Linked DNA regions of Homo sapiens: region 2 is linked to region 1. The links come from fine-mapping of genetic effects on gene expression. A gene starts in region 1. The other region holds a variant in brackets. All regions are shown on one strand. Distances are between the middles of the regions. Region 1 holds the start of CPA3 (carboxypeptidase A3). Region 2 holds the start of LOC107986045 (a long non-coding RNA gene).

Region 1 (8,510 bases):
TGGAAAACTTGACATATGGTCTACTTCTTTGGGGAAACACTGATGTGAATGAATGACTAAGCAAGCCGTGCACAGTGAGGATCCGGTCAGCTGTATAGGAGTTAACATCCTGGGGTGCTGGCTGAGACCATCAGGGTGTAGATGCACTGATTATAGTGGGAGGCTTGTGAGCTAAGAAGAAATGTAAAGGGAAATTTAGGACTGTTAAACCTGGCATACATGAAAAGACACCATCTTTCTTGGTCTAGCTTTCATCTCAGCTCATTAAAGTTATTTTATCGGCTGTCTACTACATGCCATGCACTTTGCTAAGCAATTGAAGATGGAACAATGAAAAAGAAAGATAACATTTCTGCCCTTAATGGGTGTATAGGCCCTTTGGAAAGACAGACATTACACAAATAATTAACTCATTAATTAACAATTTATTAATTAGTAATCTAATTTACATTAATCAAATAAGTGCTGGATGAACTACACAAAAAGAACATACAAAAAGTCTACCTGCTTGATGTACGGGAGAAGCCTCCCTCAGAAACTGCTGTAACCTGAGAAATAAGTCACAGTTAGCTAGACAAAGGGAGCACCGCTTCCAGGCCTGTGGCTATCCCAAAAGTATAAGAAGAAAGCCAGTGAGGGTGAAATTTGGAGAGCTGAGGAAAGAGGAGCATGTGTACAGGCTGGGGAGGGTGGTAGGAACCATGTCAGGCAGAGCTTAGAGGTCACGTTAAGGACTGGGGACACTGGTCTAAGAACAATGAAAATCCATTGAAGATATTAAGTCATCAATGACATGGTTACAGTGTTTTTGGAACACCAACTAGGCTAGGGTGTGGAAAGCAGATCAGAAGTGAGACAAGAGGATACCAGGGACCCTGACTGGACCACTTGGACCAATGAAAGTGGCAAAAATCACTCCAGAACTTGATGTTTTCCGGGATTGGAATTGGACATGCTGTGTTGGGAAGTATTGTGCCAAGTTCAAATTTTAAAATAGAATGAGATGTATTAAAGTTACGATTTGGGGGCATCTCTTACTTAAAAATGATAGACTATTAACTCATTACTTTCTATAGACTTTCTGTAGTCTACTTTCATAGACTCTTAACTTATTACTTTCTATATGGCTTCAAGAAAAATGAGACTCCATATAGGGAGGGCATGATGTGCTAAAATATCTATAACAGTGTTCTATTCATAAAGAGAATCCATTGAAGTAACAACGGTTTGTGAAAGTTGTCAAGCCAAAGAATAATTAATTGCATTAATTGTCCACTAGGTGGTAGCAGTGCAGCTGCTACAATGTGTCACACACTCATCTTCAAACTCATTTAGTAATACATCATTTAAATAGACAGAGAACCATATGTGAAAAAAAAAAATCCCATTAATTTGTCAGCAACATTGGTGGTAATTTAAAAATAGATGTAATTTAGCTAAATATTCTTCCTCCTACTCTTTAAGTTATATCCACTTTGTGTATTGGAGGGCTAACATAGCCATAGTTACCTGAGTGAGGTAATCTTGCTGGAGGTGTATCATTAAACTCCTGTTCCACAGGATACTCCCTTGCTATCTCTGGCAAGTAACACCAACCCCTGACTAAGGGAAGCTGTGGCCCAAAGTATGGAAATCTTGGCAAACCACAAAGAACTCTCCTAATTCCCTAAATTGAATGCTTTAAAATAGAAATTAGGAATAATATATGTGGACTGCTTTTTTAAAATTCCAAGGAATTTTTAAGGGTAAGAACAAAGAATAGGAAAGCAAATATGCAAATATTCTTATTTGAAATCCCATGTATCTGAGATGTCCTGCACCTGAGAAATTTTTACTATGACCACTGTCTACTGAAAGTTAACAGGAAGCTGGGTAGAATTTCCACTTGCCTGGGCAAAACCAAGAAAAACAGAAAGAGAAATCTGCCTTAGTCTTCACTGTAGTAGTATCTGACCAGCTAATCAGAGACTGCTGTGAGTCCACCCAGCCTTGCCCACCTGAGAGCCCCAGGTTGGGGGGATACCTCTTCTTCTCCCTCTTTTATCCCACTCCCACCCTGAGATCCCAGAGCAGGCTCTGAGCCTTTCCTTCAGCTCCAAGCTCTCAGCTCCCAAAGCAACAGTGAACCAACAGCACAAGAGTAGCCCCTGAATCTTTCTTTCTCAAGTGGTGTGGGTAGAAAATAGCAAGACTGATTTTCTCATCTGGATTATGGAATTCCTACATACCTAGAATCATATGCCATTTGTTCATCTTATTCTGCAAGCTGACCTATATGAATTGGTCAAAGAGAGAATTTCTAGAAGGAAAAGAAGGCAGACCATAGCAAGTTAACATGTTAATTTGGGGGCAAAAAGGGTTCTGCTGAGTGATAATGATTAAAAATATATAGAGAAAAGCATAGCTAAACTATATGGTGATATTTTAAATCATGGCTAGACGTGCACTACTACAAATACCATAGAAAGTGCAGAGCTCAAGAAAGATGGAAAATTATGGCTGCATGAAGTATTCACCTCTAAGTCACTTTTTAAAGAGGTTGATTTAATCTGTGAAACATCACAGTCTTACATAGTCAATCCTAAAATGATACGGGGTTTGACAATTATTCATCCTACCCACACATATGCCAAGACCTTTTATAAATCTTGATGCAGTAATATAAGGCAGCACTGATCTATGCTTGCCAAGAAATAGCGCTTGTTCTGAGAAAAAGCTCTAGAACATTATTGAAATCCATCTATTGTATTTTTCTTCAGAGGCTAAATAGATTGGAGAGGCAGTGGGAGTCTCAAACACATCACATGTTTATATCATATTCCAGAAAGAAGAAATTGCCAATATGTAATCTATTAAGAAGCCAAAGATGTACTTTTATTTATTAACAAAGTCTTATCCTGAGAAATACCAAAGTCCTCAAAGCACTCACCTAGATTCCCCAAATAAAATAAAAGTGTTCTTCCTACTTGACCTGAAAAACAGACATAGAAGCTTTCTCCACACAATTTTAAAACCAGTCACAGAGGAAACAGCTTCAAGAAAATATAACAGAATTCTAAAATTAAGAGGATTTCTATTTTTCCTCTTTCACCTTTCCTGTATTTTCCAGAATCATTTTCAATGGGCATTTATAATTTTTAGAATCAGAAAATAAAACTCTAAAAAGCAAAGCTATAACATTAAAAAAAATTATTGAAGTAGTCCACATGAAAACAAATACAGAGACATATTTTATCCCTAAAGGTCACGGCCACCACTTTAATCTACCACATGATCTATTTTGATACCGGTTCTGCAGGCTGGCAGTGGCCCACTGGAAGTCTCTGTTGACAGCACATGAACATTTTATCAACTGTCTAGAGAGCATGGACGTGTTTTTTAGCACCTACCACGAAGTCCCTAACATATCCTGTCTCACTAAGCCTCACAGCCACTTGTTAGAGTCACATTAGCATTCCCATTTTACAAATGAGGAAACCAAGGCCCAGAATAACTAGGCAGCCTGCTCAAGGGGATGTAGCTAGCGTGTGGGAGCCACATTGAAGTGATGTCTGTCGAAACCCAAAGTCAAGGTCTTTCTTTTTCACTGTTCCCTGGTCAAAAGTATCTTTAGTCAAAAGCAATGGAGCAAGCATTTGCTTTGGGAGTTCTCAGTGCTGGTGAGCTTGCCCAGTGTCAAGAACATGAAGGCATTTGTAAAACCCTCCTCTTCCTTACCTGCAAGGCTGGAGCCGGAAAATCCATTTGGGGAAATAAAAAAAAGTCCCGAGTTCTACCACACACCCATCAGATAGAGAAGAATGGAATTACTGCTGCTGTATATATAACAGGGGCGTGTCTCCAACCACACTATTTTGATAGTACATAAGCGTGACTCTGAGAAGTTTTATCTACAGTCAGCTATACGTTTGTCAATGTGAAGAGGTGGTTTTCAAAAAGGAAATTCTAATAAGTTAACTGATTAGATAAATTCACTTACTCTTTTAGGTTACCTATGATTCTAGGTAAAGGTGTTATTCTCCCATAATTAACCAAGTTGTGTTCAAGACTAAACATCCCTCCAGAGATGGTTGTGAATGGTCTATAGGTGGCTTTCATTAATTCAACTCTCAAAAGGCATTATTTGGCAATTACAGCATCCAGGCTCTGAAGACAGTGTCCAATTAATAAACATTACAGCATTGATATTTTCTTGCTGTCAGGTAGTTCTCAAGTTGCCTTAGAAATAGGGGTCACCTCTGAGGACAGAGAGAAGAGAAGGGCAAAGAGTTAGGGCAGTGCTTTAGGTCTTTAGTGTTTATTTCTTTACCCAGAGAAGTACAGGAAAAATATAACAAAAATGTTATCATTGTAAAATCTAAATGGTGAACATTTCAATGTTCGCCATAGTACTTACAGCATTTTTAGTACATTTATATTTTGTAATTTAAATTTTTGGGGTTTTTTTTGCCTCCCAAGTAGCTGGGATTAAGGCACCTGCCGCCACGCCCGGCTAATTTTTGTATTTTTTAGTAGAGACAGGGTTTCACCACGTTGGCCAGGCTGGTCTTGAACTCCTGACCTCAGATGATCCACCCGCCGCGGCCTCCCAAACTGCTGGGATTACAGGCGTGAGCCACCGTGCCCAGTCAATTTAAATGTTTTTAATTTCACAACTTACATTCTAGCTTCAAAAATATATTTTACATTATTACGAACCACTCACCAAGATTTTATGGCCAGATACCCAAATTCATCTCAGTCTCCAAGTGCAAATTTTAAAACTAATTTCTTCCATCATTCAATTCAAGCAGAATGGTAGAGTAGTATTTTAGAACAGATAGAACTAGTAAATCCCAGCTCTGTGAACATACTTTCTCTGTTACCTTGGCCAAGTTATTTGCTAAAGGCATTTGCTTCCCATCCTGTATCTGTAAAATGGGTATTTCCTATTGCAAAAGGTAGATAAGTAGCATGTGCTTGGTGGGTTAGTGTTTTTCCCTCTCCAGCTGGAAAAAAAAAACCTGGTGTGGGGGAAGAAGGGGAACAGTTTGTGCAACAGAACCCTAAGAGGAAATCAGCTGCTCATCAAGATAAGGGCTGAGGCATAAAACTGCCAGAGGGTCTCAAGGCAGGCAAAGAAGAACCATGAGGCTCATCCTGCCTGTGGGTTTGATTGCTACCACTCTTGCAATTGCTCCTGTCCGCTTTGACAGGTAAATCTTACTTCCTGTGTTCCAGTCTCTGTGTAGAAGAGAATTAAAGGTTGTTTCCTTACAGTTCACTTTTTTTTTTTCATTTGCCTCCACAAAGGGAGAAGGTGTTCCGCGTGAAGCCCCAGGATGAAAAACAAGCAGACATCATAAAGGACTTGGCCAAAACCAATGAGGTAAGCATTTAGAGGGATATTTTATCTTTTCTTACTGTTCTCTAAAAGATGCTTCTTCTTATTTTACTGTCAATGCCCATGGGACTACAAAAGACTATTGAACATAAGGGGAAAGCAGGAGCTATCTGGATAATTCAGCCAATGGCCAATACTTCACCTGTTCTGGTTTTGGTCTTGGTTTCCAAGACTACCACTTCTGTTTTTCCTCCCAAAAGCTTTTCAAACACCAGCTTTTTCAAGGTAAAACTATGAAATCAGGAGCTGTTCTTGGCCTCCTTATCAGGGCATCTTTCTCTTGCCTACGGGTGCCATTCCCTCTCCATTCTCCCCACTCCGACCCTCATCTCCTCTGGTGCCATAATTTCTCTTGAGTACTAACTGAAAACGTTGAGGCACTGGCTAATATCAAGATGTGACCCTTTCCAAGAGCAGGTACATTTTCAAATAAGACTTTTAAAGTTAGATCAATCCTTTAAAATCCAACAGCCTAATATAATTTTATCATGTATTCAGCTGCTCCTATTTATGTTGCACCAGCCACCTTATATATGCCATTTCAAATTCTCCAGCAGATTCTCAATGTCAGGGTTATAATGTAACTCATTTGAAACAGAAGAGCTAAAGTGCAAAGACAATAAATTAAATGACCAAGATTACACATCAAATTTAAACCCAGAACTGGGTCTGGGATTTATTCCAGTCAAACATACAGTTACCTCTACATCAAATCAATCAAAGGCCCTGCCTATTCTAACTCCCAAATGTTTCTCAAATCCACACATTGCCCTCCATTCCACTGCCACTGCCAAGTTCATGTTCACTCTACCTCTTGCAAGGAGAATTTCCATAGTCCCTTAACTAGCAATCAGGGCTCTAGTCTTGACTCCCACAAAGCCAACTCTGCATTGCAACCTGATTGCTCACTCTAAAACTTGACAATTGCATTCCTCCGTTTGAGGGTCATTACTAAGAAGCAGCCTAGTACGGAAAAAGCATTTTCTTCAAAGTCAAACGCTTACATTCAAATCCAAGCTCTACGCTAGCTCTGTAGCCTTAGGCAACTTACTCAACATCTCTGGGTCTCAATTTCTTCTGCTATAAAATGGGGATAATAGTCATAGCTACTTCCTAGGGTTGCTACAAAGACTAAGTAAGCGTTTGATAGCACTTAGAAGCAGGCCTGCCATATTAAGCACCATAGAAGCGTTTTTTGTTTGTTATTGTTTTTGTTTTGAGACAGAGTCTCACTCTGTCACCCAGGCTGGAGTGCAGTGGCACAATCTCTGCAGCCTCCGACTCCCAGGTTCAAGCGATTCACCTGCCTCAGCCTCCCTATTAGCTGGGATTACAGGTGCCCACCACCATCCCCGGCTAATTTTTGTGTTTTTAGTGAAGACGGGGTTTTGCCATGTTGCCCAGCTGGTCTCAAACTCCTGACCTCAAGTGATCCACCCGCCTCAGCCTCCCAAAATGCTGGGATTACAGGCATGAGCCACCATGCCCAGTCAGAAGCATTTTCTTTTGGTATTGGTATAGCATTCAAAGCGTTTTATGATCTGCCAAACTACCAGCCTCTTCAATATCCTGCTCCTCCACCTTCTTCCACACCCTTCAAGCCCCATAAACACCAAAATCTCACCCACCTTGGCCCTGTACATCTTTTCTCATGAAAATGTGTTTCTCTCCCTTTTGACCTGGGTAAGTCCTACTTATTTCTCAAGATCCAACTCAGGCAGTGTCTCCTGCAGGACGTCTCTTCTGTTCATCAACTCTCGTGACTCAGTTTTGGCTGCTCCTTGTGCTCCTGGAATACCCGGTTCCTTCCTCTGGCATTGGTTAACATGTGGGAAACATGCATGTATGACTCTGTGTTCCACACCAAACCTTTCACATCTCATAAGTCCCTTATTAGTCTCTACAACTGTGGCACCCAGCTCTTTGCCTCCTGCTTAATACATGAAAGTTCACTAAGCTCTAAGCTCCTGCTGCACATTACCCTGCTAGAACACAGAAATGTCTATTGTGATAAGATGGCTCTGCCTAACTTGCCTTTGCATCACACTACATCTCTCATATGTCCAACTCATGATGTAGCTTTTTGATCAAAATAAACATTGGTTGGTTCATAGCAGCCTCATATTGTCACTTGATTGACCTCGAGGTAGAGGGGGACTCAACCAAGAAACAGCCAGGCAGACCTGAACACATACACAAGCAGGGGTGGAAATTGAGCTTTTCCTTCACATTTCCCAGGCTGGGGACTTGTACTTCATTTAGTTTCACAATTGAGTATGATTTTGAAGAACCACAAGAACTGGAATCTTTTCAATGTTTGCTTTTGTTTTTGTTTTTTGTGTTTTTTCTGAGACAGAGTTTTGCTCTTGTTGCCCAGGCTGGAGTGCAATAGCGAGATCTCGGCTCACTGCAACCTCCACCTCCCAGGTTCAAGCAATTCTCCTGCATCAGCCTCCCGAGTAGCTGAGATTACAGGCATGTGCCACCATGCCTGGCTAATTCTCTATTTTTAATAGAAGTGGGGTTTCTCCATGTTGGTCAGGCTGGTCTCGAACTCCCGACCTCAGGTGATCCGCACCTCAGCCTTCCAAAGTGCTGGGATTACAGTCGTGAGCCACAACACCCAGCCTCGAAATTATTTTGATCTGAATGCTATACTTCTGAGCTCATATACCAAATTTTTGAAATTGTCAGCTAGAGGAAGAGAAAGGAAAAAAAAATCTGCACCTGTTAACTGTCTTCATGCCCCAGACCTCAGACCTATTTCACAATCTTCACAACACTTCCCAGTGGACCCTCATTTGCCCCATTATTTCAGGAGAGAGGAGTAAAATTTAAAGAGTCCTAGTAACTTGCCCAAGGACATATTGCTAGAAAAATGACTTTGCTGGGGGTCTATGCCAACTGTTTGATACAATATCTTGTATCAGGATTTCCAGAGTTTATAGGGACATCAGGTTTTGAGGACTAACTAACCAGATATTTAACTTAAATTTCCAATTAGAGGCAGATTCTGTGGCTAGATGAATTGTGATCCCATTCAATCCCAAAATTGTGGAAGAAAAAAATTAACCAAAAGATCTGCCCATCCTTTTTAACTTGATAGACCTGAAGTCCTTAAAAAAAA
Region 2 (12,988 bases), 73 kb after region 1:
CTTTTGTGTTTTCAACTTTTATATCATGGATTTTAGTCTTTTATGTTAATCTTTTATCTCTCTTACTATTATATTTTTAACTTATGATTCTTTGTATCTTTATTTCAAATTACTTATTTTATCTATAATTTTAGTGCCCAATCATTTGTCTTTATTGAGATTTAATCATCATGTTTAGATATTTTCCCTTTTAATTTATTCTGCATCTCAAATTTTTGTTGTAATCGCCTCATAATACTTTACAGTAACAAGTAGGAACACTTCCATGAAGACAGCCCTCACTCAAAACGGCTGAACAAAATAAAGGGTTAGAGGGGTAGAATATATTAACTCACATTACTGAAAATGTCATCTTGTAGGCTTGGTTTTAGACATGGCTGAATTAAAAGTTTTGAAAACTCATCAGGATCCCGTTCTCTCCATGCTTCCTCTGTAATGCCGCATTCTAGAGAGGCTCACCAGCACTACCAACAGGGCGGCAGAGTTCCAACCTACTACCTCCTTTCTCATTCAAGTTCCTCAAAAGAGAGAGGCACTTCTCCTTCCGGGTCAGTCCTACCCAAGAAACAAGGATTCACTTGAAGCCAGAAGCAACCAATGTGACCAGGTAGAGTTTATTAACTGACTCAGACCTATGTCAAGTGTCTTCTCCCAGAACAGAGGGTGAGGCAGCCTCAGCCAAAGCAACTTGATTATTAGAGGAGGGAGGCTCCTCAAAATGAGAGAAAGTATGGCGGGTAAGCAAAAGAAAACCAATATCTACTAAATCTAACATCCTTTTCTATTGTCTTTAAAATGCTCCTCAGGATTCTTGACCTCGGAATTGTCAAATAAGCCTACAACATGAGAGGGCAAGCTGGAGACCTTGTTTCTTTCCTCTTTTACAGCAGCCTCTTCTCCAGCTTCCCATAGCGGGTGCTCTAGCATTTTTGGGGATGATTCTCCAAAAACAAAAACTTTCCAGAACTGTAAGTCTTACCAAACAGCCAAAACATTGTTAAGTGTAACAAAATAGCTTCTTGACATGTCACACCATCTAGGCTTTAAAAAACAACAAAAAAGCATCAGGTATTCCTTTAACCTTAAAATGTTAAAATCCAATGGAAATGGAGTCTGTATGGGCCAAAGGGAGCTGATATGTGAGTCCTTCCTTGCAGAAATGCCCTTTTTGCAACATCACTGGCCTGATCTCAGAACCAGAGGCTCAAATGAGTGAAAAGCATCAGGATAAAGCCAACAGTGACACTTCTTAGCTCTGGTAGATTTCTTGGAGTGTACTCCTCAACAGCAAAGACTCCTTTTAAAATTAGGCAAAGACTGCATTTTTGACTGATTTTATTAGCATTTTATAACTTTCCCCCTTCATCTTTTCAAATATTAGAGAAAACAACTGTGGCAGGTATTAGTGTGCATTAGCCACCTTCATTGCATCCAGGCTGCTGTCCTGTTTTACACTTCATTTCATCAGAACTCCTTTCTTCCTAGTCTAATTCAGTTCCAGGAAGATGATAGAGTTATAACTCCCTCTCAAGTCACTGTCTGCACACAGAGAATCCCTTTGTGATGGTTTTATTATTTTAATTTACTCAACACTCTCAAGAATAGAATTAATCATGTACGGGGAAATGAACAACCCATACATAAATTTAACACATGCATAGACTATAATGACCTCTTACTCTTCTTCCCATTTTTCTTGAATCCTTTCCTGGTATTTTAGGGGTGATTTCTACGGCCTAAACATATGCATGAGGAATTACATAAAATGTCACTAGCCAAACTATTCTGCATTGCCTCTTGACTTAATGCTTTCTACAATTATATAAATCCCAAACCCCATGGTTCAGCACTAAGCCAAAAACCTGCCACATCTACATGACACAGAAGAGCTTAACCTTGAAATGCACCATACCAAATGGAACCCCATTCCTTGCCAAAAGCTTTGCAGACATCTGTCACAACATTTATCTCCCTTCAAGCAACAGCATCAGCGGCTCACAATGGTTTCTTACATTCCAAGTCTCTGGTTTCTCCCACTCCTTTTACAGGTCTTCCTCTACATTTATAGAACAGGTTTCCATCTCAAACCCAGGAAATTCTAGCTTCTTCCTATTACGTGTTTCCCTGGTTCAACCTACAACAATTATTTTTCCCACTGGTAAGAAACTCCTTCAACTTAGAGTTGACGTTTTTCAGGGTTGCTTCTTAACAGCATTCTCCATTAGTATCATACTGTTTTAATTACTTTAGTTTTAAACTGCTTGAGTATTTTTAAAGTAATACATCTACATGGTAATTTTTTTTTAAGTTCAAAGGGTTTAAAATGAAAGCACATTTTCTTCTTACACCAATTCTGGTCCATAACTTCCCCTTCCCTAGAGATAATTCCTAAAAACAGCTTGTGGTGTTTTCCAAGATATGGTTCCATATCCATAGAAAGAAACAGATATTCAATTTATTGAGAAATATCAATTTGGTGAAGTTTAAATTGACATAGCTTTATTTTTTCAATCCCTATATTCATCTGAGCTCTGAAAAAAAAAACTTTTCTACGTAACTTCTTAGGCAGATCCTATAACTTCTTTGGCACTTTCAGTTAAATTCACCTTATTTTGATTTAGAACTCCCACCTCATATCCAGTTTAAATTTCATCTCCTCTCTTCTTCCCAGTGGATCTTTCCTGGGATTGCCTCACATGACTTGGAGTTAGGAAGAGGCTGATCTCATTCATTGGGTAGAGGAAGAAGGAGAGAGTCTGGGTTGTTTGTTTGTTTGTTTGTTTGTTTGTTTTCTGGATCAGGCATTTCAGATTGAGAGCTGGGGATGCAGGAGAAATAGGAGAAGAAGAGATGCTCTTGGGTCATTGGTAACCAGTGGGTGCTTGGGAGGCTCCTCTAGTATTCCTCTGGCTCAATCTTGTTCTACCTGCTACTGGTAGCCTCTGCTAATGGAGAGGTCTCTTCATATGTGGGATGATTTGCTTGGAATGGTGCTCAACTCCACCATGCCTTCCTCTTGCTGTTAGAAGGCAGCTCAGAAAGTGGCAGACTCACTAAAAGACTAGGAGCCTGTTATGGGCTGAACTGTGTCCTCCCAAAATTCCTGTGTTGAACCCCTGAAATCTAGTATCTCAGAATGTGACTATATTTGGAGATAGGACTTTTATGTAGGTGATTCAGTGAGTTAGGGTGGGCCTCAATCCAATCTGACTGGCCTGACTGATCCTTTCCAAAGAGAAAATCTGGACACACAAAGACATGAAGGCTGTAGGAACCCAGAGGAAAGACCATGTGAGGACACAGCAAGAAGGGAGCCATCAGCAAGCCAAGGAGACAGGCCTCTGAAGAAACCAACATGCTGACACCTTGGTCTTGGACTTGTAGCCTCCATAGCTGTGAGAAAATAAATGTATTTTGTTTAAGTTACCCAGTCTGCGGTAGTTTGTTATGGCAGCTCTAGCTAACTAGTATATTCCCCAGCCCCTATATACCCGCTAGGACAAGAGGCTGCTTGGACAATCTCATTCCGTGTACTCAGAACTCTCCCTCATGCTCTTTTACATTTAGATCCAATACCCTGTAAATGAATCTTCCGTTTTTCCAAAGGACATGAGGAGCTGCAGATGGGGTTGTTCTATTCCTTTTCCCATACAAGTTACCCCCACATCCCTTCTTACTTCTCTGCAATAAATGACTCCTTCAGGCCTCCTGCTTGCAAGAATCTCTACATAAGAAGTAATCCCTGGGTTCAGATTGCCTCCAATCCCTGGAACGCCTGTTAACCATTCCCAAGAGGTAAACTTCAGTCCAATTTGGCAATACCATAGTGAGCCTTCAGATAGAAATGCCATCTAGCCAGGAGAGAAAAATGCCAGACTCACCCCACTTCTTACAGGAGGCCCAATCACCACAAGTGAGTCTTCTGAAGCCCCTTCTGTATTTCTTGGAAGACAGAGCCTTGATGACTGGACCTATTCTCTAATCTTTTTATATAAGCAAGTGGGAGCAGAGGTGATGGTTGCTCTTGGTAAGCCCAAACGGAAGTGTCTGACCTTAATTGTCAGACACCTGAAAGGCAATCGAAAGGATCTTTCAGCATGTGGGGACTGAATACCTCTTTGTTCTCAACCTTGAGTCTTGGTCACCAATTCGAAGGCAATAGGAAAAGTCCAACTTCACACACAAGTATATATTTCACATTTTTTAATCAGAGGTGAAAAGAAAATGTAGTTTGTTTGGACTATAACTGATTTAGTCTTCAACTTCAGCCCCTACCTTCTAAATAGTGGGACACAAATCAACTTTTAGTCCTATCTGGTTTGAAACTTTATCCAATGTCTTCATTTAATTTGTACCCTCAGGTAATGCTCAATATCTTGAGATAACTGCTCAGTGTTTTGCCACAATAAACAATATTCATGTCACTTTGTACACATGCATAAGTGTATCATCAAGTAAATTCCTAGAAGTGGAATTTCTGGGTCAATTCCATTCAATAAAAAGTCAATAAATATTGAGAAACATATTTATAAATAAATATTTGACAGCTTGCCAGACACTGTTCAGTGGTGCATCAATGAACAAAACAAAAAAATAAATATCTACCCTTGTGGAGCTTATATTCTCATGGTAAGGAACAGATAAAAACACAATAAATAAGTCAGTCATATAGTACGTGAGAAGATGATAATAGCTGTAGAGATGAATGAGAAGAGTAAGAGGGAATGGAAGCAGGAAGTTGTGATTTTAAATTGAGTGATCAGGAAAGGCTGCACTGAGAAAGCAACATTTCAGCAAAGACCTGGAGGAGGTGAGGAATGTGGCCCTACAGATAACTAGGAAAGCCTGTTTTAGGCAGAGGGAACATTGAGTCCAAAGGCTCTAAGATGGAAGGATCGCTGACAAATTCAAAGAAAAGCAAGGGGGCCACTGTGGCTGGAGCAGAAGGAACCAGAACAGAATAAGAGATAAGATCAAATTGGTGCTGGGGCCAAGTTAGGTAGGGCCTTGCAGCCCAATATAGGAATTTTGGCTCTTGCTCTCAGTGAGATGGGAAGCCAATGGAAGAATTTGAGCAAAACATGAAACATGATCTAGCTTTTAACACACTTTCTGTGACTGTGTGTTGAGAGTAGATGTTGGGGACAAAGGTGATAGGAGGGAGACAGGAGAGGAGACCAGGGTAGCAATCCAGGTGAGAGAGGTCTTGGCTCAGACCTGGAAGGCAGTGGAAGAGGTGCAAAAATATGGTCAGAGTCTAGCTGTACCGTATTTTGAATGTATGTGATAGAGGTTGCCAAAGTGCCCCCAAAGGGGTTACACCAATTTATCTTCCCACCAGA[C/T]ATGGAGGCTTCCTGCTTACCCACACCCTGGCCGATGCAGCATATTATGAAACTCCTGAGGCTTTGCTGCTCTGGTAGGTAAAAAAGCAGTGCCTCATTTTTAAACTTAATTTGTATTTTTCCATTTGTGAGTGAGCATAAATATTTTCCACATGTCTATAAACTATTTGTATTTGTTTTTACCTGTTCATGTCCTTTGTCCATTTTTCTGGTGGGTTGGTGATGTTAAAAATTGATTTGTAAGAACTTTTTCTATATTAAAAATTAGCCTTTTATCTGTCATCCTTTCTCAGTCATTTCTCCTTGATTTTTTCTATAATATTTTTTCTGTGTATACATTTTTACCCTTTATATACTTAAAATTACTGATCTTCCCTTTTAGGATAACTTCTTTAGACAAGCATTTCTTATCCACCTATACTCCTTTCCCCAATGTCTCTTCCGAATACAGTAGTCCTCTAAGTTTCCAAAAGAAAGATCCTCATGGTCAAAATGTCTAGAAATAATTGTAGCCCCATCCCCTTCCTAGAGGCTTACAATGTACATGAGTTTTTTTTTTTAATCTCTCAGTAAAGAAACATCAAACCACAAACCATGACCATCACCCCACTGTTCTCTTATTTTCTATTAAGTTCCATAGAACTGGTAATACTTAGAACATGGTTTGGAAAACACAACATTAGATATTCTTTGGAAAATACCACATTAGATATTCTAAAATCTATCCCCCAGTCAATCCAGCCATGAGTAGTGCTCCTGGGTTACATTATTTTTCCTACTCTCTCCCTCCACATGGCCCCACCCCACTCCACCCACCCAGATCCCTCCCTGTCACCAGCAAATGTGCTGGGCACATGTAGTGTTGACCAAACTTGTACATGATTTCGTCTGACCTTTTCAAATTCATTTTCCTTCTGCCCTGCCCTCTTCATCCACTTATTTTGTCTCATCATTTTGAATTTATTTTGCTTATACATGAGACCCCCTTTTACATTATTTCTGGAACATAGCAGAGAATGAGTAAACATAAAGAAATCCCATCTATGTACCACAAATATTGGGCTAGCACGTAAAATCCCGAAGATATAAAGATAAGTTTCTTGAAAGGGAGGAGCCTGCCAAAGTGAGGCTGAAGGTTTGAGAAAGTGGATGGGGGAGGAAAGAAAGAACCTCTGGCTTCAGCAGCATGCCATGGCCCTGGAGTCACACAACCCGCAACGGCAATTGCCCCCTCCTGTCCTCATCTGTCACAAGGAGAGTAGGGTCCACCAGAAGGCATGCGGGACCTCTGCTGTGGTCAGGAGAAAGTGAGAGAAAGTTGAGATTGGAGGGGACAAGGGCTTGAGGAATTGACCCAAATTAGGAACTTTGGTGCTGCATTACCTGGATTGGAATCCTGATTCCATCACAGACCAGCTATGTAAGCAGCCCTCTCTGAGCCTTAGTATCCTCATCCTTAAAAAATGGCTAAGAACATAGGACTTAATGAGTTGGCACACATACACACTTCGAGCAGCATCTGGCATAAAGAAAGAACTAGGAAAAGGAACCCAGCAAGAAACATTAGGCTCAGGACAAAGAAAATGGAAATCAGAGGAACTGAAGAATGCAAAATCGTTCGTTCCATGTTTTGTTTTTTGATTTGTTTGTTTGTTGTTTCATTTGGAATGATCGGCAAATTGGGAGAAAGGTCCCAAGCACAACAGGATACAACCAATCCAAACCTAGGAGTACAGGAGCAAAAATAAAACTTATAAATATTAACTCAGATTCAGAGCCACTGCCTTCCCAAATGATGCCTTTCTGCAAATTAACGGGGTGGGGTGGGGTGGGAAAGCCCCTTCTCCAAGACATTTCCAAGCCACTCACCAAGAAATTATTTTAATAAATATACAAATATACACTGGCGCTAATATGGAACAGTTCCCAGTGTTGTGCAGTGTACATCCCACAAAACCACACACCAGCCCTCAGTTCTGGCTGAAGTTTGTTTTCCTATCTTTATGCAATATGTTACATATTCTTTATCATGAAATGTTTAAACAAGAAACAGGAGAATAACATAAGCCATGTTCATCTTTCCTCCTATTGTGGCAGGCTAGAAATTTTTAATGCTTATCAATTTTTCAAATAGATTTCTGAAAATGTATTTCACATGAGATGTATCTACTTCAAAACATAATTTTGAAAAAAGGAAATTAGCTCAAAAATTCAAGCTGTTGAAAAGTTGTTGAAAAAGATTGACTACGATCCAATGTTGGAAAAGCTGTGTTAGTAACTCCATTTTTCAATTAACTTCTGGAGAGATTTAACAAAACCTGAAAGGCTTTGAAAACATTTCTGCAACAATTGAGGTCCGCAGAAATATGACAGGGCTTGAAGTAGTTTGGCTGAAACAAACACAAACTAAACTTCTGGTTTGAGTAGAGGGTTTTTTTTTTCCCCCTCAAATTATTTTCCTTTCATCACAAAATAGAAAACCTCTTTGTTTCATGCATCCAGCTGAGCACCCATAGGCATTCATTCTGGTTTGGTCTTGGCTAAATGTAGAGAAACACAGTGGACCTGTTTCAAGTCGACGCTGCCGACTCGTCATGAATTCATCACTATACTGTCACAAATGTCCTCCTACAGTGCTTTTCATTGCCTAGTGGTACCAAAAGAAAAGAGCCAGTATTGTTTATGAAATGGCTGTGAAACAGATATTTGATTCTTTTTTTCCCCCTCCGAATCTGTTATAAGCAACGGAAGCAAAGGAAGGAGGAAGAAAAAGAGAAGGGCAGGCACTTCAGTGGTGTCAAACTGGGCCGGAAGGAGAAGGGGAGACAGAATAGAAGGAAAGAGTTGAAAGAGAAAAGAAGAAAGGTAGAGGAAAAGAGAGAAAGAGGAAAAAATCTTAGTTCTCCATCCACACACCGGGATATAAACAGACACTAATTTGGAGGATGATTTTTTTTTCACTTTTTTACCTTAAACCACAAATGTGTACATCTTGGTAAGTCGTGAGCCATATTTTTACTATAGAATAAGCCCTATACTCATAGGAGAATTTCTTTCCCAAAGTTGTGCTATTTCGATTTTTATCAGAACCTCTGGGTAACCAAAATAGGAGGAAAGTTTGAAACTGTCTTGGAAAAACAAAATGTTGCTCCATCTTACTGTACTCTCAGAGCCTGGACTAGGATGAACAACTCGAGCATCTGTGATGCCACACTGAAGGAGGCACTCACTCTCAGGTGCCACCCCTGCACTCACGCGCCCTGACTGTGGGTGCCTCCTTGAATTTAGCACCTGGGTGTCTCACTTGCCTCACCCTAATCTGGGCCCTGCCACCCAGTCCCACAAGTGCTCCTCTGCCCTTGCAGGAATCTGTGCTCTTTCTCTCACTTCCAGCTAAAAACCAGTTGCAGCGTCTCCTTTCCCTTCTGAATCTCCAACTCCTTAACCACTGCCCACTTTATCCCAAGCCTTATTCTCACCTCCCACAATCAAGCCTCTTTTGTCCTTAGGCATCTATGGCTGAGTTTTAAGCAAGCCACCAAGAATTTTAGAAGTTAATCAGTAATTCCTGGGCCTCGTTTTGATTCAAAAAAAAAAAAAGTTGCCAGGCACAGTGGCTCACACCTTGTAGTCCCAGTACTTTGGGAGGCCAAGGCAGGCGGATCGCTTGAGCCCGAGTTCAAGACCAGCCTAGGCAACATAGCGAAACCCCATCTTCACAAAAAGTTAGTCAGACATAGTGGTGCACGCCTGTGGTTCTGGCTACTCAAAAGGTTGAAGGAGGAGGATCACCTGAGCCAGGGAGTTCAAGGCTGTAGTGAACTGTGATCGCATCACTGTACTCCAGCCTGGATGACACAGTGAGGCTCCATGTCAAAAAAAAAAAAAAATCAATAAAAGAAATTTTGTGTTATCCTGTGAAACTATGAAACCACCTTTAGTGATCTCATTCCCTAAAAATAAATCTCCGAAGTTCTTTCCAAAACAGATTTGTACTTAAGGATGACGGAAAGTCTAACATGATGTGCCTTTCTACTTAGTTATTGATTGGATTACTTTATTATTAGGTTAGATTCAGAAAATGGTTTTCTAGAGGAAAAGATAATGTCACAGAGACACCTCCTGGGGTTTTCTTCAGTCACCCAGAACCATCCCTTTTCCCACTCAACTTTCTTCCTTCCCTACAGGCAACTGCTCTATACCAGGCCTCTCTTAGGGAGACATGTCTTATCCCTCAGGTGTGCGGAAAAACACGGCTTCTGCTGGAGATGGAAAAAGGACTCTGGGGAGGACAAGATGCCTCATGTCAAAGCAACAAGGTTCCAGTGAAGAGCTGCAGGCCTCAGAGGCAGGTAGGCAGAGCCATTTCTTGGTCTGAACGTCTTTCTTCTTCGGTCCCCAGCAAATCATCACAGTGAGCTGTCAGCATTTTCCCCACATTCTCCAGAAGCAGCCTCTGGATCCTAAACACAATTCTTCCTTTGATTCTTTTGATGACGGTGCAACAGCAAAATGCTGTGGCAATCAAAACTGCCTGAAAACAGCAGATTAGCCATTCCAAGTTTTAACTGAGTTAATCAAAGAACTGTCAGCACAGATGCTGTCCATGGTTCTCCTAGAGATGAAATCTCGATGCTGTGTCCTTGAGACTTCTCATTTAGAGGGCCTCTTCCAGACAGAAGTTTGGGATATTCACAAGACTAACTTCTACATGTGGTGAGGTTGAGGACGAGGATAGCAGTGAAGATGTGCCAGACACTTAAAAACACTATCTCATTTAATTTTCCAAAGAGTCCAGCCAGACACATACCAATGTCTCCATTTTGCAAAAGAAATTGAGGCTCAGAGAAGTTATATGGTCACTCAGCTAGGAAAAGCTGGAATTAGAATTGGAGCCTATGTCTAATGTTCTTAGACTTCACACTCTTTGCCCCTGTTCACCCCTCCTCATTTTTTCCTCCCATATGCAATGTGCCTAATACTCTTCTCAAGAGCACACATGCTTGATTCACAGCTTGGGCCTTGGCCTTTCTTTTCTGAGTTTGAATCATAGGCAGCTAATGCTAAAGGGGTCTTCTCACACAGCTTTGTGCAATCCTCTAAATTATGATGAGAAAACTAAGGAGCAATAGATTAAATGGCTGTGGCTCTAGTGAGCCATTGAGTCAATGTCGGCACCAGGACCACCACTGACTCTGGGGCAGTATGCTAGCACTTCATAGTGCTCTCAAAGTTGTGCAAGGGCCAGGCATGTGCCTCACACCTATAATCCTAGCAACTGGGGAGGCTGAGGCAGGAGGATCCCTTGAGGCCAGGAGTTTAAAACTAGCCTGGGCAACCCTTTTTCCTAAAAAGTTTTAAAGCATGGTGGTGCACACCTGTAGTCTTAGCTACTCAGGAAGCTGAGGCAGAAAGATCCCTTGAGCCCAGTAGTTCAAGGCTACAGTGAGCTGTGACCGCTGTAACGCACTATAGCCTGGGTGACAGAGCAAAATCAAACTTTTAAAACATATATATACATAATATATATTTTTAAATATTGTACAAGGAGAGACCCATGTCATGGATGTGGGGAGCTGATTCTCTCAAGCCTTTAACTTTTCTGGGACACACAGGTAAGTGGGGAGCTCTGGAGTGACAGTGAGGGGCAGCACTCACACATGTCAATCATGTTTGACTCTGGCACTTGCTGTTACTTTTCAGCAGAGCAATTCTAGTCATCAAAACCCATAGAGAAAGCACATATTAAACAGAAACAGATTTTCTAGCACTTTTTCTGGGTGAGTTCTTTCATTTTCTTCTAGGACTTTCTGGTTTTCTCATCCTGGAGTGTGGCAGTACAAGGTTTAAACTACTCTTCAAATCACCACCACTGTCTACTTCTTCAATTCCTTATTACCTATTTTCCAACATGGCCCCTTGGGCTGAGTAATCCAGTTTATATAAACCCCACACACCCTCTACAGGTGATTTACCTGCTCCTAGATGACTGCCTCCTCCCTCTGGTACCCACCTCCTTAGTTCCTCTAAGCCAGAAGTTGTAGTCACAAATGGCTTCAGGAGCTAGGAAGATAAAGAGAAATGTGTAAAGTGCCAGGTGTATGATGATAGGGAATGGTGAGGAGGGTAGCAAACTAGAAGGTGCATGCCCCATCTACAGAAATACAAATTTTAAAAAATATAAAGCATTCTGCTGACCAAATAGAATACTTGTACAGAACTGGATGCAGTGGCTCACATCTGTAATCCGAGCACTTTGAGAGGACAGGGCAGCAAGATAGCTTGAGGCCAGGAGTTTGAGACCAGCCTGGCCAACATAATGAGACCCTGTCTCTACAAAATTAGAAAATAAAAAAATTAGCTGGGCATGGTGGCACACAACTGTAGTCCTAGCTACTCAGTAGATTGAGCCTTGAGTAGCTACTCAGGAGGGCTGCTTGAGCCCAGGAGTTTCAGGCTGCATTGAGCTATGAATGAGCCACTGCACTACAGCCTGAGTGACAGAGTGACAGCCTGTCTCCAGAAAAAAAAAAAAAAAAAGAATCCTTGTGCAGCCTGGATTCACTTGGATTCAGTGGGCACCAGTTTTCAATCTTGTCAGGTCCCTCCTCTAAACTGCTGGCATTTCTTTCTTTAAATCCTTTCTCAAAGTCAAATTTGTTTCCTGAGTATTTTCTTTACTAATCACCGCTCCTTTACAACCCTTTAATTGTATATACAATTTGTACCCTTTTATCTGACTTTCATATTTTATGTATTTTAAGGCAAGAATGGTTTATCTATGTTTGATATGTCGACTTTACTTGAGGCCCTACCTCAAATTTAGTTAATCAGAACCTCCAAGGAAATATAGTGCAAAGTATACAAGTCTTATAAAATAACTCTTATTTGGTACAAGTTCTATTCCTAAGTGTTTACATTTGTGTCACTGGAATCTTTGGAAATTCCTAACAATGGGGCAGAAGTTAATTTTCTGCATCCCCATAGTTTGGAGGAAAGGGAAACATTCTGTTGTTAATTTGCACAAATACAAATAAACCATATGGCTTTCTGAATGACTGAGTCACTATGACACCCAGCCAACTATGCCTCTACCATTTCTCACATGTCTCCCAGAAAGCTGTCAACACAGTTCATCTTAATGACTCATCATTCTGTCATCTGCTGCCCTCTACTGGAAAAGAATACATATAGCCAACAGTGTGGTCCAGAATCCAGACCAACCTCCATAAAATATTAACTGTCACACAGAAAAATCGTCCCTACCTCTGTGGTTGGAGTGTTGGAATGATATAACAAGAACATGACAAATGTCATGTAACAAAAACATGTCATATAACAAATGTCATATAACAAAAACATGACAAATGTCATCCCTACCTCTGTGGTTGGAGTGATATAGCAAAAAACATGACAAATTACAGAAGAGTCAAGCTACAGGTTTTTTATTATGGAAAACTAAGTTTGCGTTGAAGTAAAAGAGACAGGAATCAATGATTCACTGGTGGAATATGGAAAAAAAATGAGGCTGGGAAGAAGCCAGAATGAGATTTTTATACAATGCAACAAACATGCCATTTAAAAAAAAAAAAAAAACTTTTATTGGTGCTTTTTCTTCATTATAAAAGTATATAAACTCTATGGTA

The links.
Region 2: its variant is fine-mapped to the expression of CPA3 in whole blood (INTERVAL, PIP above 0.99).

What each region holds. Positions count from the first base shown.
Region 1 is chr3:148,860,181-148,868,690 of GRCh38, forward strand. CPA3 (carboxypeptidase A3) reads left to right here and starts at 5,116. Exons shown (of 11, transcript NM_001870.4): 1 at 5,116-5,195; 2 at 5,293-5,368. The coding sequence starts at 5,128. CPB1 (carboxypeptidase B1) reads left to right here. Exons shown (of 11, transcript NM_001871.3): 11 at 1-7.
Region 2 is chr3:148,931,240-148,944,227 of GRCh38, forward strand. It overlaps LOC107986045 (a long non-coding RNA gene), which reads left to right and starts at 5,340. Exons shown (of 3, transcript XR_001740565.2): 1 at 5,340-5,416; 2 at 9,581-9,694. The variant C/T (reference allele first, on the strand shown) is at 5,343.